4 linked regions of the Homo sapiens genome follow. The protein of the gene in region 4 purifies or fractionates together with the protein of the main gene of each other region. This does not show direct contact. Each region holds a gene or a part of one and is shown on either strand. Other genes may lie near its edges.

Region 1 (2,592 bases), on a different chromosome or scaffold from region 4:
TCCTGTCCCCCTAGGCTGCTAGCCCAACGGCAGCAACACTCCTTTGGTCTGCATGGGGTGGCGTGCGTGGGCACGGAGGCCCACCTCTCCCTCTGTTCCCTGGAGTTCTATCGTGCCAATGACACCGCCAGGTGCCCTGGGGGGGGCCCTGCAGTGGTGAGCTGTGTGCCAGGCCCTGTCTACGCGGCATCCAGTGGCCAGAAGAAGCAACAACAGTCGAAGCCTCAGGGGGAGGTGTGTGAGACAGTGATTATGACCTTTCCCACCCCAGGTGGAGAACCCCTAGCCTGGCAACCCCAGACTAAGCACAGCCCTGACCTTTGAGGACAGAGAGGAGCCTTCCAGGGGGTGGGCCACAGACCTGATACCACCCACTCCCTTCCACCAAAGTCTCACTCATCTCCCAGGTCTGCTTAGCCCTCCGTGCAGATGTTGCCATTTGCCTCTGTTGGGCACTTCTCTCTTCTATAGGCCCGTGTCCGTCTAAAGGGCGGCGCCCACCCTGGAGAGGGCCGGGTAGAAGTCCTGAAGGCCAGCACATGGGGCACAGTCTGTGACCGCAAGTGGGACCTGCATGCAGCCAGCGTGGTGTGTCGGGAGCTGGGCTTCGGGAGTGCTCGAGAAGCTCTGAGTGGCGCTCGCATGGGGCAGGGTGAGGTGGCATGGAGGTGGGAGGGAGAGGGAAGGAGGTACATGCTCCTGGGGGGCATATTCCTTCGGAAGGTTAGGTGTCCCCTGGGCAGACAATATATGCTTAATTACAACTTCCTGATCTTTGCCATCTGGCCCTAGGCATGGGTGCTATCCACCTGAGTGAAGTTCGCTGCTCTGGACAGGAGCTCTCCCTCTGGAAGTGCCCCCACAAGAACATCACAGCTGAGGATTGTTCACATAGCCAGGATGCCGGGGTCCGGTGCAACCTACCTTACACTGGGGCAGAGACCAGGGTCAGTCATCCTCTCTACCTTGGTTGAGGTCTCTTTCATCCTATCCAGGTCTGGTCTCCAATCTACAGTCCAATGGCCCCCAGCCCATTGCCCCAGGCCCCTGCCCTCCTGCAGCTCCCACCTGACCCATCACTTGCTAGCCCATTATGTGCCTGAGTCACGCTTCAGCCACATCTGTTAGAGACTCCCACTACCTCACCCCAAAGCTTTCTCCAGCGCTTCCATTCTGTGTCACTACAGATCCGACTCAGTGGGGGCCGCAGCCAACATGAGGGGCGAGTCGAGGTGCAAATAGGGGGACCTGGGCCCCTTCGCTGGGGCCTCATCTGTGGGGATGACTGGGGGACCCTGGAGGCCATGGTGGCCTGTAGGCAACTGGGTCTGGGCTACGCCAACCACGGCCTGCAGGTGAGTGGGAAGGAAAGGGGAGCCGAGGCTGTTGTCTCAAAGCCTGTGTTTTGGGCAGAGGGCTGAGGAATGAGTCCCTTGGCCCAAGATGCTGGATCCTGGGCCTTACAGAAACATCTGCATATGTCCCCAGGAGACCTGGTACTGGGACTCTGGGAATATAACAGAGGTGGTGATGAGTGGAGTGCGCTGCACAGGGACTGAGCTGTCCCTGGATCAGTGTGCCCATCATGGCACCCACATCACCTGCAAGAGGACAGGGACCCGCTTCACTGCTGGAGTCATCTGTTCTGAGAGTGAGTGAAGGAGGGGGTGATGCATGCCAGGGAAGGGAGTGTCTGGGCCACCCGTTTGCAGGGAAAGGGGGCTGTAATCTGGAGGGGCACTTCTTCCCCATAAAAGAGCCAGTTTCGCCGGGTGCAGTGGCTCACGCCTGTAATCCCAGCACTTTAGGAGGCCAAGGCGGATGGATCACGAGGTCAGGAATTCAAGACCAGCCTGACCAAGATGGTGAAACCCTGTCTCTACTAAAACTACAAAAATTAGCCAGGCGCAGTGGCAGGCGCCTATAATCCCAGCTACTCGGGAGGCTGAGGCAGGAGAATCACTTGAACCCAGGTGGCAGAGGTTGCAGTGAGCCAAGATCACGCCGCTGCATTCCAGCCTCGGCAACAGAGTGAGACTCCATCTCAAACAAACAAACAAACAAAAACAAAAACAAAAAACTAGTCTTACACACTAGGGAGGGATGGAAGCACCCCTCTCTGTGAAGTCAGCAGTGACTTCTAACACCCCCTTCCTTTCTTGGTGCAGCTGCATCAGATCTGTTGCTGCACTCAGCACTGGTGCAGGAGACCGCCTACATCGAAGACCGGCCCCTGCATATGTTGTACTGTGCTGCGGAAGAGAACTGCCTGGCCAGCTCAGCCCGCTCAGCCAACTGGCCCTATGGTCACCGGCGTCTGCTCCGATTCTCCTCCCAGATCCACAACCTGGGACGAGCTGACTTCAGGCCCAAGGCTGGGCGCCACTCCTGGGTGTGGCACGAGTGCCATGGGTGAGAGGGTAGGGAGTCAAGTAGAAGGGCAAGACCACGGGGGATGGGGCAAACCTTCTGGGGGCAGAGAAGGAAACAGAAGTTCCCTTCTCCCCACAGGCATTACCACAGCATGGACATCTTCACTCACTATGATATCCTCACCCCAAATGGCACCAAGGTGGCTGAGGGCCACAAAGC
Region 2 (3,500 bases), on a different chromosome or scaffold from region 4:
TGAACCAGCCGGGAGGAGGCAGCAAGAGAGAAGGAGCAGAAGGTACCTCTCTGGGAAGGCGAGAAGCATTCTCCCCACAGTTCCCTCCAGGCAGCTCTGGCCCCGGCAGCAACTTCCTACATCAGCCCAGTGCACAGAGGGGCATCCTCATCCTTCTGCAACATCCCACCCTGCTCCAAGGGCCTCCTGGGCTTCCAGGACGCATCTCCCCTGGTGTTCCTCTCACCCCTCTGGCCACCTGTCATGCATCCTCTGCACCTGGCATTTGGAACCTGGAGCTTCAAAGGCTGGAGGGTCCCAGGACGCTTGCTCTCCTCAGGCCAGCTTGTTCATGCCACACCAGCTCAAAGGTCCCTTCCTCCAGGAAGTCCTCCCTAACTACCGCCAATGCACACACATATGCACATATACACGCATGCACATGGGACAAATATGTTTTCTTTCTTGCATGGTCTCTTTGTACTCTGAGCTTCCCAGCACTTAGCACAAATAATTAACTCTGTACTTAGTGCCATGAGTCTGAGCCAGACACTGTCTCATTCTGCCTCCTGCCCCCATGCCTGCCCTAAGCAGTCATTCAATAAATGTCCGTGAATGAATGAACGCACAAATGATCTCACATGATCCTAGGTATTCTATAAAGTGGGGGCAAAGAGAGAATCACCAAGTTGCCCGAGGCCATGCAGCCTCTGCAGAGGCAGGCTTCAGATCCAGCTCTGACTGTAAAGCTCATACACACCCCACCATCACACTCCAAAGGAAACAGGCATCCCCCCCTGAACTAGACTTAAAGATTCAAGTCTTCTAAAGGTGCGTGAGGCTGGCTGGGCGCGGTGGCTCACGCCTGTAATTCCAGCACTTTGGGAGGCCAAGGTGAGCAGATCACGAGGTCAGGAGTTAGAGACCACTCTGGCCAACATAGTGAAACCCCGTCTCTACTAAGAATACAAAAAATTAGCCAGGCGTGGTGGCGGGCACCTGTAATCCCAGCTACTTGGGAGGCTGAGGCAGGAGGATTGCTTGAACCTGGGAGGCAGAGGTTGCAGTGAGCCAAGATCACACCCCAGACAGTGCAAGACTCCGTCTCAAAAAAAAAGATACGCGAGGCTGTCCAGTGTGCTGGTGAGGGGTATGACGTCAGGGCCAAGCTGCCCAAGCTCAAGTCCTGCTGCTGTCACTTAGCAGCTATGCACCCACAGTCTTGCTACCTGGACTCTCTGGGCCTCCATGTCCCCTCATTGATGAGGGGGACAATGACAGCACCTCCTTTGCAGGGCTAGGGTGAGGGTATAGCTAGGTAACACAGGTGAACTGGGGCAGGGGTGGGGCAGGAAGGTGCTCGAGTCCCCGTGCTGTGGGGAGACCATGCTGGGTGCACAGGTGTTGGATTTCCATCCTCAACCTATCACACGCATCAGTGACTCTCAGAAATGGCACTGTGCAGGTCCATAGAGGAGTTCTAGGCCAAAACAAGAAGCCGGGCTTCATACCTAGGTAGCAAAACTCACAGGACCTTTTCACTCCAGTGGGTAACAGGATCCAAAATGAAAAACAGGGCCAGGCGCAGTGGCTCACGCCTGTAATCCCAACACTTTGGGAGGCCGAGACAGGTGGATCACTTGAGGTCAGGAGTTCAAGACCAGTCTGGCCAACATGGTGAAACTACATCTCTACTAAAAATACAAAAATTAGCCAGGTGTGGTGGCGCATGCCTGTAGTCGCAGCTACTCAGGAGACTGAGGCAGGAGAATGGTTTGAATACAGGAGGTGGAGGTTACAGTGAGCCGAGATCACACTACTGCCCTCCAGCCTGGCCGGCAGAGTGAGACCCCGTCTCAAAAATAATAATAAAAAATAAAAATAGGTTCAAAACAACACTGGATCACCTATTTCGTAGGGCTGCTGAGATGACGACATTGGTTACTAAATGTAAAGCATTTCACCTATAATAATTACCCAGAGGACACTCACATCTTATAGTGAAGGAAACAGAGGCAGAGAGTTTGTGGGTGTCATCAAGATCTCTCCAGACACTTTCAGAATTGGGACCAACACACAGCTTCCTAACCCCCTTCTCATGTTGGCTCCGCACAGTGTAGTAACCCGCAAATAACCTGTAGGAAGCTATGGCGACTGGTGCCTCGCTCCCTCCCACCCCAGCCTCTAGTTAGGACCACTGTGGGGTTAAAGGAGGTGGGGCCCAGCCCAGCTCTAGGCCCAGCCCCAGCCCCGCTCCTCGCTGGGTGACTTGTGGCAGATGACTTAGCCAGTCCTGAGCTCCCCTCCAGCCTGAGGGGGTCTCCTATCCCAGGGAAGTTGACACAGTGGTTCCCCCCTCCCACCCTGTTTACTTATAGGGCCACATGTGAGATCATCACAAGGAAACTGGAACCATATGGGGCCTACGAAAGGATTCATTCATCAAATTGTTATGATTTGCTATTCTGCAAAAGGAAAATCTTGTTGTATAAAATATGCTGGCAAAATAACTACATGCCCTCTTAGAACTGTTCTAATAAACTTCACCTGGAAGGCGGCCCTGACCAGGTGCCCAGTGCTCAGAGCCCGGGCTTAAAGTCTCACCAGGTCAGGGAAGCTGCTGGAGAAGTCTCTAGACAGCACAGTCTCCCCCAGTGGTGAGGAGGGGGTGGAACTGGAAGGAACTGGAAGTGGGTAGAAGGAGGGGGTTTCCCTGGAAGTCTCGTGTTTTCTCTTCCTTCCAGGTATTTGGCCCTGCCATTTCCCCTGCCAGGAACACCCTTTCCCCCATCCTCCCAGCCCTACCCACAGACTTAGCCACTGCCTTTTCCTCCTTAGGTTCCCAGTTTGCATGCCGCTTCCTCCGGGAAGTCTTCCCTGACTCTGCCAGTAGGGCTCAGTTCATTTTTCTGGATCTCCTAGTTGCATGAGGGGGAAAAACTGGGTCTCTCTCCTTTCCTGCCACATCCACAAGTTATAGAGCAGTGTCTGGCACTGAGCTGTCCCTTAGTGAATGAATGACTGAATGGCTAAGAACACCACCTTTCCTGACACGGGTTTGGCACTGACGACTACCAGTCCTATAGCCCCATGGGGCCTTCTGCTCAGCGCCTGGCTGGGAAATTCAGTAGTAGTAGAATGTGCAGAGGCATCTTGGGGAAAACAATTCTGGGGTATTGGCAGAATTGCGCTCTTCCCGCGCTCCCCTCACATCAAGCCTCATCTCCTCCAAGGAGCCGCCAGGGAGCCCCCAAGGGCTGCGAAGGCTCCTGGTGCCAACACTTCCTAGAGAAGGGGACAACAGGAATAATAGCTAACATTAATAACAGGGCTGCCAGCCGGCACGGTGGCTCACACCTGTAATTCCAGCACTTTGGGAGGCCGAGGTAGGTGGATCACCTGAGGTCAGGAGTTCGAGACTAGCCTGGCCAAGATGGTGAAACCCCATCTCTACTAAAAGTACAAAAATTAGCTGGGCGTGATGGGCGCCTGCAATCCCAGCTGCTGGGGAGGCTGAAGCA
Region 3 (3,500 bases), on a different chromosome or scaffold from region 4:
CAGACACGCGCCACCACACTCATCTGATTTTTGTATTTTTAGTAAAGACACGGTTTCACCATGTTGGCCAGGGTGGTCTGGTTCTCTTGACCTCATGATCTGCTCGCCTCAGCCTCCCAAAATGCTGGGATTACAGGCGTAAGCCACTGTGCCCAGCCGACTATTTTTAAATTTCTACTGATACTTGACAGTACGTGTACAAAATCCTTCAAAGTACAAACTGAATAAATATCAACTAAGAGCTGGCTTTTTGCTAAACTCTAGACCTAAACTTTAAAGAAGTGGGGTAACGGAGTAATAATGGTAGAGAAAAAGGCCACTGGAAAGCAGCATGCTGAACAATTCCCAGAGCTCACACATGGGGCCTAGAGTGGTCTGTGTTACCACCTATCCTCAACTTTGTTTTCTCTGAGGCTCAGGTCCTCCTCTTTGCGTTGATGACACTATAGCTAGCTTCTCCCCAGAAAAAAAAAAAAAACCTACGAACATCTTAATTTGGTATTGTTAATGCCTACTTCCTTTTATACACCCACCCCGCCCCCCAGTCCTGCAACGCTGCTGCTCTGTTTGAAACCCTGTAACTACCGTTTTCTATCTACTGTTTTTTTTTCTGCCAATTAGTGATTAGCTAGCTCTGTTTAACACTCACCCCTCAACTCCCTGCAGAGCTACACTTCACGTTGTATCCATATATAATGCTTCCCTTATCAAGGCTCTGGCATGCTTCTTCCTCACCAATTTCTGATTTGATGTGATTAACAGAAAAAAAATAAATTAGCTATCATATAATAAAATATTTTCATTATGCAGTGATGAAGCTGAGGCTCAGGAGAGTTAAGAAGACTTTCCTAAATCCACACAACAAATTAGTAGCATCAAATCTTTTCTGCTTACTGCTTCTTCTGCTATATCATGCTCTCTTTCTCCTGCGAAGGGGCCAGAAATTAGCCCTGAAATATGTCTCTAAACTCAGACTTAAGCAGGTAGAAAGGTGTGTGTCACATGAATATACTGGGATTACTCAGACCAAATCTAATCTAAAATTACTTCTATCCTACTTCTATTCCTTCCCTTTCAATCATTTGTTGATTTTCAATGATTCAATAAACATACAAAGATATCCCAATTACCGTGTGCCAGGCACTATGTTAGTCATCTGGGGATTACAACAGTGAATATGACAGAAATTGCAAAGCTCTCACAAATCTGATGGTCTCTCCATCTCTTCCTTATGAGCTCCTATGTGACTCTGCATTTAATCCAGCCCTATTCTTTATCTTCTTCCAAGTCTCAAGAGTTTGATGGACAAACTTGGTTCCAAATTATGCTAGCTATACACTTATTTGGAATAGCTAAAAAAAAAAATTTTAAAACAATAAAACCACTGACAATACCAGGAGCTGACAAGGATATGCAGCAACCAGAACTTGCAAACATTGCTGGTGGGAATGCAAAATGGGATGGCCACTTTGGAAAAGTTTGGTAGTTTCTTAAAATCCTAAATATACACTTACAATAAAACCCAGAAATTCTACTGAATATCCAAGACAAATGAAAATGTATATTCACACAAAAACCTATACGTAATTATTCACAGCAGCATTATTCATAATTACCAAAAACTGGAAACCAGCCAAATGTCAGTCAGGGAGAATGGATAAACAAAACCGTAGTACATCCACACAATGGCATACTACTCAGAATAACGACAAACTACTGATCCATGCAACATGTTGAGTTAATCTCAAATGTATTATGCTGAATGAAAGAGGCCAGACTCAAAAGATATGATTTTAAAATCTTTTACTGGATTATTTCATTTATATGACATTCCAGACAAGGCAAACCCAAAGGATAAGGAAACAGATCAGCGGTTGGCAAAGATTACAAGTAGGGAGATGGTTTGACTACAAAGAAACAACACAATATAAGTTTAGGGGGTTGGTCCAGCGGTGGCTCATGCCTGTAATCCCAGCATTTTGGGAGGCCAAGGGGAGCAGATCACGAGGTCAGGAGATCGAGACCATCCTGGCCAACATGAGGAAACCCCATCTCTACTAAAAATACAAAAATTAGCTGGGCATGGTGGCGCGTGCCTGTAATCCCAGTTACTAGGGAGGGTGAGGTAGAAGAATCGCTTGAACCTGGAGTCAGAGGTTGCAGTGAGCCAAGATGGTGCCACTGCACTCCAGCCTGGTGACAGAGTGAGACTCCCTCTCAAAAAAAAAAAAAAAAAAAAAAAAAAAAAAAAAAGAAGAAGTAGTTTAGGGGGTTGAGGAAACTGTTCTATTTCCTAGTTAGGTCACATTACAGCAAAGCTGTCCTGATCCAGACCCCAAAAGAGAGTTCTTGGATCTCGCCCAAGAAAGAATTCAGGGTGAGTCCACGGTGCAACCTGAAACCAAGTTTATTAAGAAAGTAAAGGAATAAAAGAATGGCTACTCCACAGACAGAGCAGCCCTGAGGGCTGCTGGTTGCCCATTTTTATGGTTATTTCTTGATGATATGCTAAACAAGGGATGGATTATTCATGCATTCCCTTTTTAGACCTTATAGGGTAACTTCTTGACATTGCCCTGGCATTTGTAAACTGTCATGGTGCTGGTGGAAGTGTAGCAGTGAGGACCACCAAAGGTCACTCTTGTCGCCATCTTGGTTTTGGTGGGTTTTGGCCAGCTCCTTAACTGCAACCTGTTTTATCAGCAAGGTCTTTATGACCCGAATTTTGTGGTGACCTCCTATCTCATCCTGTGACTCAGAATGCCTTAACTGTCTGAAAATGTAGCCCAGTAGGTTTCAGCCTCATTTTACCCAGCTCCTATTTAAGATGGATTTGTTCCAGTTCACACATCTCTGACAGTCACAAGACTATACACATTTGTGAAAATCCATAGAAAGTATATTTTTTAAAAAAGTGAACTTTACTGTTTGTAGATTTTTAAATAAATTTTTAAAAAATTATGCTATGTATATAAAAATCTGACAATATTTACTATTCTCTTATAATACGGGGAATTCTAATTTTCTGGATTATTTCAACTATAGTAACACCTAAAATGTATATAGCTTTTAAAATATTTCAGGCACTGTTTCATATATTTTACATGCCGACCTGTTCACCAGTCACAGCAATCTCATAATGTAGGTATTTTCATTACCTTAATTTTACATATAACGATACTGAGGCAGCAAGGGGTTAAGGAACTTACTTAAGGCTACACAGCTAGTAAATAACAAAACTGGAACTTTAAGCCAGGTAACTTGGTGTCAGAGTCCACACTCAGTCTGAAATGTTACACTACGCTTCCTTTTCAAGCCATGTATTACATCTGTAGTTAAATATACACCTATTTTTAAATAGCCTATAAAATAAAGATGTTACAATTATAAACTAAATTTTTAATACCTCATACAAAACTTATTCTGAATTTTAGAATTTATACAAACTTAGTGAGATAGCCTTATGTCTTTCTTATCTTACTGTTACTGGCAGGTGTTTG
Region 4 (3,971 bases):
TGAGCTGATTTGCATATTTCTTTTTTAATGAAATTTAACTTGGCTTTTACTGCATTTTTAAAATGTAAAAATGTAAAAACAAACACAACATAGTATTTCAATGCTGTACCTTTATGCAAATGACTTCATCTATCTTTTTAAAACATGCTGTGATATAGCTAATGTTAAAACTGACACAGCTTCACTTTCTTCTTTTTCTCTGTACTGAAAGCTGCAGAAATACACCTTTAATTCCAAGACAATTTGGTTGAAGCCCTCAAAATAAAAAGTGTACATCCACTTCCATTGCCCTGACTTTCCCCACATTGTTGATTGTGATTCTCTGTGCCATGTTGGTAGATCAGGCAGGCTATATATAATTTGCACAAAACATCTTTAGCCAGGGTAAGGTTTTAGAAACTATCTTAAAAAGAAACTTGTCAAAATATTTTTGATATTTAGGACAAATACTAAATATTATAATTTTCTCCCAGCACATCTGTTTACACAGCCTAGTTAGCTAGCTGACCCTGTTAAAGATCAGCTTATGGAACAAATAGGTGAAGTCATTTCCTGAGCCAAAAGATACAGATAATAAATGTTAATAATAGCAGCAGACTAAAAACATTCCTTTTTGTTGTTTGTTTTCCATAGTCAACAGTTTTAGCACAAGGACTTTAGAAAATGACAGATTTTTTTGGTAAAGTTTACTGCCTGAAAAGAGTTTAATAAAGAACATCCAAGGCCTGATTGCTGTTATTCTGAATATAACTTTTAATTACTTTCTGTAAGTTACATTCGGTTACTGTCAGACAACTTACTGTTGCATGGAAAAATGCCCCAAAAAACTGCAATGGTTTACATACATTTTACATTACACGTATTACCTCTTAAAACCCCCAACAGAATAAAGTCTTAGCAAACACAAATTTTAATTTCTGAACACCCTTCCAGTAAGATTGTAAAGGTGGGAGGAAGGGGAGGAAGGACTTGTTTTTTGTATTCCTAGTCTACTTGATTAAAATGTAATCTTCCAAGGGTTTGTTTAGCTCACTATCCAGACTGCTAGGGTTATGATGAACATTATTACTTCTTTCCAGGGTAAAAAAAATGACATTTGAAAATAATGTAAATGCTATGACATGATTTTCCCAAGCATGACCTCAACTTGAAACATTAGATTACTTAAGAATTCTAAAGATTGGTATACCACCACTGCACCAGAATTTTTAATTATTCCAACAGCTACAGGAATTTTTTAATAGTTTTTTTAATTTTATGAACTTAAAGCTGAAGAAAATAACCGATTTAGAAACCATAATAAAAGGACAGATATTTAGCCAGAGATATCAGTTCCTCCTGAAAAAGGATACTGACCTCCTCTCACTGCAGTTTTTCTCCAGGTATCTTACTGATTTCAGATAGAATTTAAAATTCATCTTAAAAATAGAAACAAAAGGACTACTTAAACTGACATTAACTAATAAAAATATGCTCAAATTTACTGACAGAATCATGGACACTTCATACAATACTTAGACTCTACCAGTTTTAAGTAAAGTAAGGAAAAAATTATAATTACAAAGCCAGTCTTTCCCCTTGGGGAAACAAAAAAGCCACTTTTGACCAATTGTTCCCTGCATATACATATACTGTATATTATTATAAGCTTCTTCAGAGAAGCAAAACATCTTTGTCTTCCTGACACTGGATTATTTAGCATGTTTTTTTACATCAGGAAGGCAACTGCACTGCTTGCATTTTTCTACCAGCTGAGTGTCTGGTGATAGCTGGGTGCAAGAAGATTGTGAGTTATTTATGCAGGAGGACTGTTTGTCCTCGACCATGAAGAAAGGCAGACTTATAGCTTATCTGCTTCTTCTTTTTGCTTTCCCCTGCTGCCACCAGCCTGACTCTTTTGCCGTTAGAACTCCACAAACAGGAGTTCCTCTTCAAGCCCTCTGTATCCCTCATCCCTCCCTCATTCCTTTAGTTAAGAGCAAGGTAGGGACCTTTACCTGGTACAGCTCCGGGAGATGGGAGATAAGTGACACTGAGACTTCATACCCAGAACCCTCAACTTCACAAGAAACTTCTGCTGGGGGCCAAAAGACTCGGGACAGCAGAGCTCAAAGCAGGGCCAGAAGGTGCAGGTGGAGCCACAGCGGCGGGTCTCCTTTAAGGATAAGATGGCATCATCATAACAGCACTGCTCTGAAGGGTTGTAGATCTTGTTCCCACACCTGGGTGTCGGCTGGCACAGCCACAGTCCTGAGCCAACAGGAGCGTCTGGGGGCAGACATTGATGGTGTACATCCAAGGAAGAACAGATACTCAATTCCCAGTCTCTTTTCCCAACACCACCTCTTCCCTCCTCATTTTTCCCTGTCCTGTCCTTACCTGTAGTTCCTTTTGAACACTGGAGGAGGAAGACTGTTATCCAGCAGACAAGAGCTAAGGGAGAAAGGAAAAAGGTTGAACATGGAGCTGAGAATGTGACAAGTATGGAAAAAACAAACAAACAAACAAACAGAGGTTAGGGTGGTTTAAAGGTGGAGATTATCACTTGGGGCTAAGTCTGTATGGGATCCCGTTCAGGCAGGCCCTGAGCAGCACGCTCAGTCACCCTTTGAGGTGACTAGTAGGGCACAGGAGGCTGGAATAATGTTAGAGATAAAGAGGAATAAATCGGGTTGAGGTTTGGGAGCTGCACTGGGAATGAGATGAGATGATGTTTGGATTTGGGGTCCTACTTGCCCAAGATGCAGCATCGTGGCCTCATGCTTCCAAAGATGCTCTAGGAGAATTGAAGAAGAGTGGTAAAAGGCTGGAACTTATGGAGACAGCCTAAATGGGGTTGTCTGTTAACCTGGTAAGTTTACTGATTGGATGGCTGCTGATCATGCCACCTGCAGTCTCCCAAGCACATTCCTTGAAGATAACCAAAGTCTCCCAAGCACATTCATTAGTTTCTTTAAGGAGGAGACTGGGTGGCGTAAGGGACCACAGAGCCGAATGTTGCAGACTGACTCATTGCATTCTCCATATACTATTGCAGACCTCAGGGTGAATGAGTGTAGGTTGGTCCTACTCCAAGTTAGGCTTCTAAGAGTTTTCAAGCTCCGACATTGAGGAGACAGTGCCCAACTAAGCTCCAATCAGAGAGAATGCTTCAGCCACTTCCCCATCTGGTTTCACATCCTCCCCTTCCTAATACTTGCTTCTTCTATATTCCCCAAGCACGATGTCTCTGGAAATGTCAAGGGGACCGTTTATGAAGCCACTTTATTTTTTGCTCTGGAGTCATTAGAGTTGCCACCTGCTCTAGCAGTTGAGCCACGGCTCTGGAAACTCCAATAAAGGGGGTAGGGGTGGAGAATAGCAATGGCCCAAATCTCCTGGTGTGCTTGGTGTGAGGATTCAGAGACCTCCAGCATCTTAGTTACATGGTCAGGGAAAGTACTAAACACCTGCTTTTCATAATCATATTATATTAGTGGCCAATGATAAGTGATGTAGTACTTAGGAGTGTGTAGTACTTAGGTGTGCAGACAGAGGGAAGGGCAGGGCAAACTGAGGCCTGCCAGGCAAGTGCCAGCTAGGGAAGGGCTTGGACAAATTCAAATAATCCCGAAGCTGTGGAAAGGACCTCAGTCTTCATGGATGTGTGATGATTCAATCAGAAAATGTCTAAGGATTGGCCAGACTTTCCATCCTCCACTTGCTGGCACAGCATAGGGAAGAGTTGCTGACTTAAGTTCATCCAGCCTGTACCATAGCCTTTGAAATGGTTCTCCTTTTCTGAGCTTCATTCTTAGCTTCCTGTACATGTGCGGAGGTGTGGGGTGTGGTTTGGATGCACAAGGCTGCTCTCCCCTACCCCGGAACCTAAGAAGGCCAACAATGTGAAGATTCCTAGTGAGCCCAGGCTGTCAGCTTGTTTACTACCAAATGTTAAAAAGAAACGTTTGAGTTTGATTAGGTAAAATACA

Evidence for each region. Proteins that work in one complex are often made in the same cells at the same time.
Region 1: the proteins of IGFL3 (region 4) and LOXL3 purify together in Homo sapiens (affinity purification with mass spectrometry; one large-scale study listed by BioGRID and IntAct). This does not show direct contact.
Region 2: the proteins of IGFL3 (region 4) and FBLN1 purify together in Homo sapiens (affinity purification with mass spectrometry; one large-scale study listed by BioGRID and IntAct). This does not show direct contact.
Region 3: the proteins of IGFL3 (region 4) and LCLAT1 purify together in Homo sapiens (affinity purification with mass spectrometry; one large-scale study listed by BioGRID and IntAct). This does not show direct contact.

The regions. Positions count from the first base shown.
Region 1 is NC_000002.12:74,534,351-74,536,942, reverse strand, and holds part of LOXL3 (lysyl oxidase homolog 3 isoform 1 precursor), read left to right. Parts: intron 1-14; coding exon 15-234; intron 235-471; coding exon 472-652; intron 653-792; coding exon 793-947; intron 948-1,187; coding exon 1,188-1,355; intron 1,356-1,488; coding exon 1,489-1,651; intron 1,652-2,168; coding exon 2,169-2,412; intron 2,413-2,511; coding exon 2,512-2,592. UniProt on the Homo sapiens protein: Protein-lysine 6-oxidase that mediates the oxidation of peptidyl lysine residues to allysine in target proteins.
Region 2 is NC_000022.11:45,505,883-45,509,382, reverse strand, and holds part of FBLN1 (fibulin-1 isoform D precursor), read right to left. Parts: intron 1-3,500. UniProt on the Homo sapiens protein: Incorporated into fibronectin-containing matrix fibers. May play a role in cell adhesion and migration along protein fibers within the extracellular matrix (ECM).
Region 3 is NC_000002.12:30,520,246-30,523,745, reverse strand, and holds part of LCLAT1 (lysocardiolipin acyltransferase 1), read right to left. Parts: intron 1-3,500. UniProt on the Homo sapiens protein: Exhibits acyl-CoA:lysocardiolipin acyltransferase (ALCAT) activity; catalyzes the reacylation of lyso-cardiolipin to cardiolipin (CL), a key step in CL remodeling.
Region 4 is NC_000019.10:46,121,889-46,125,859, forward strand, and holds the start of IGFL3 (insulin growth factor-like family member 3 precursor), read right to left. Parts: upstream 2,801-3,971; 5' UTR 2,762-2,800; coding exon 2,737-2,761; intron 2,434-2,736; coding exon 2,380-2,433; intron 2,269-2,379; coding exon 1,998-2,268; intron 1-1,997. UniProt on the Homo sapiens protein: Potential ligand of the IGFLR1 cell membrane receptor.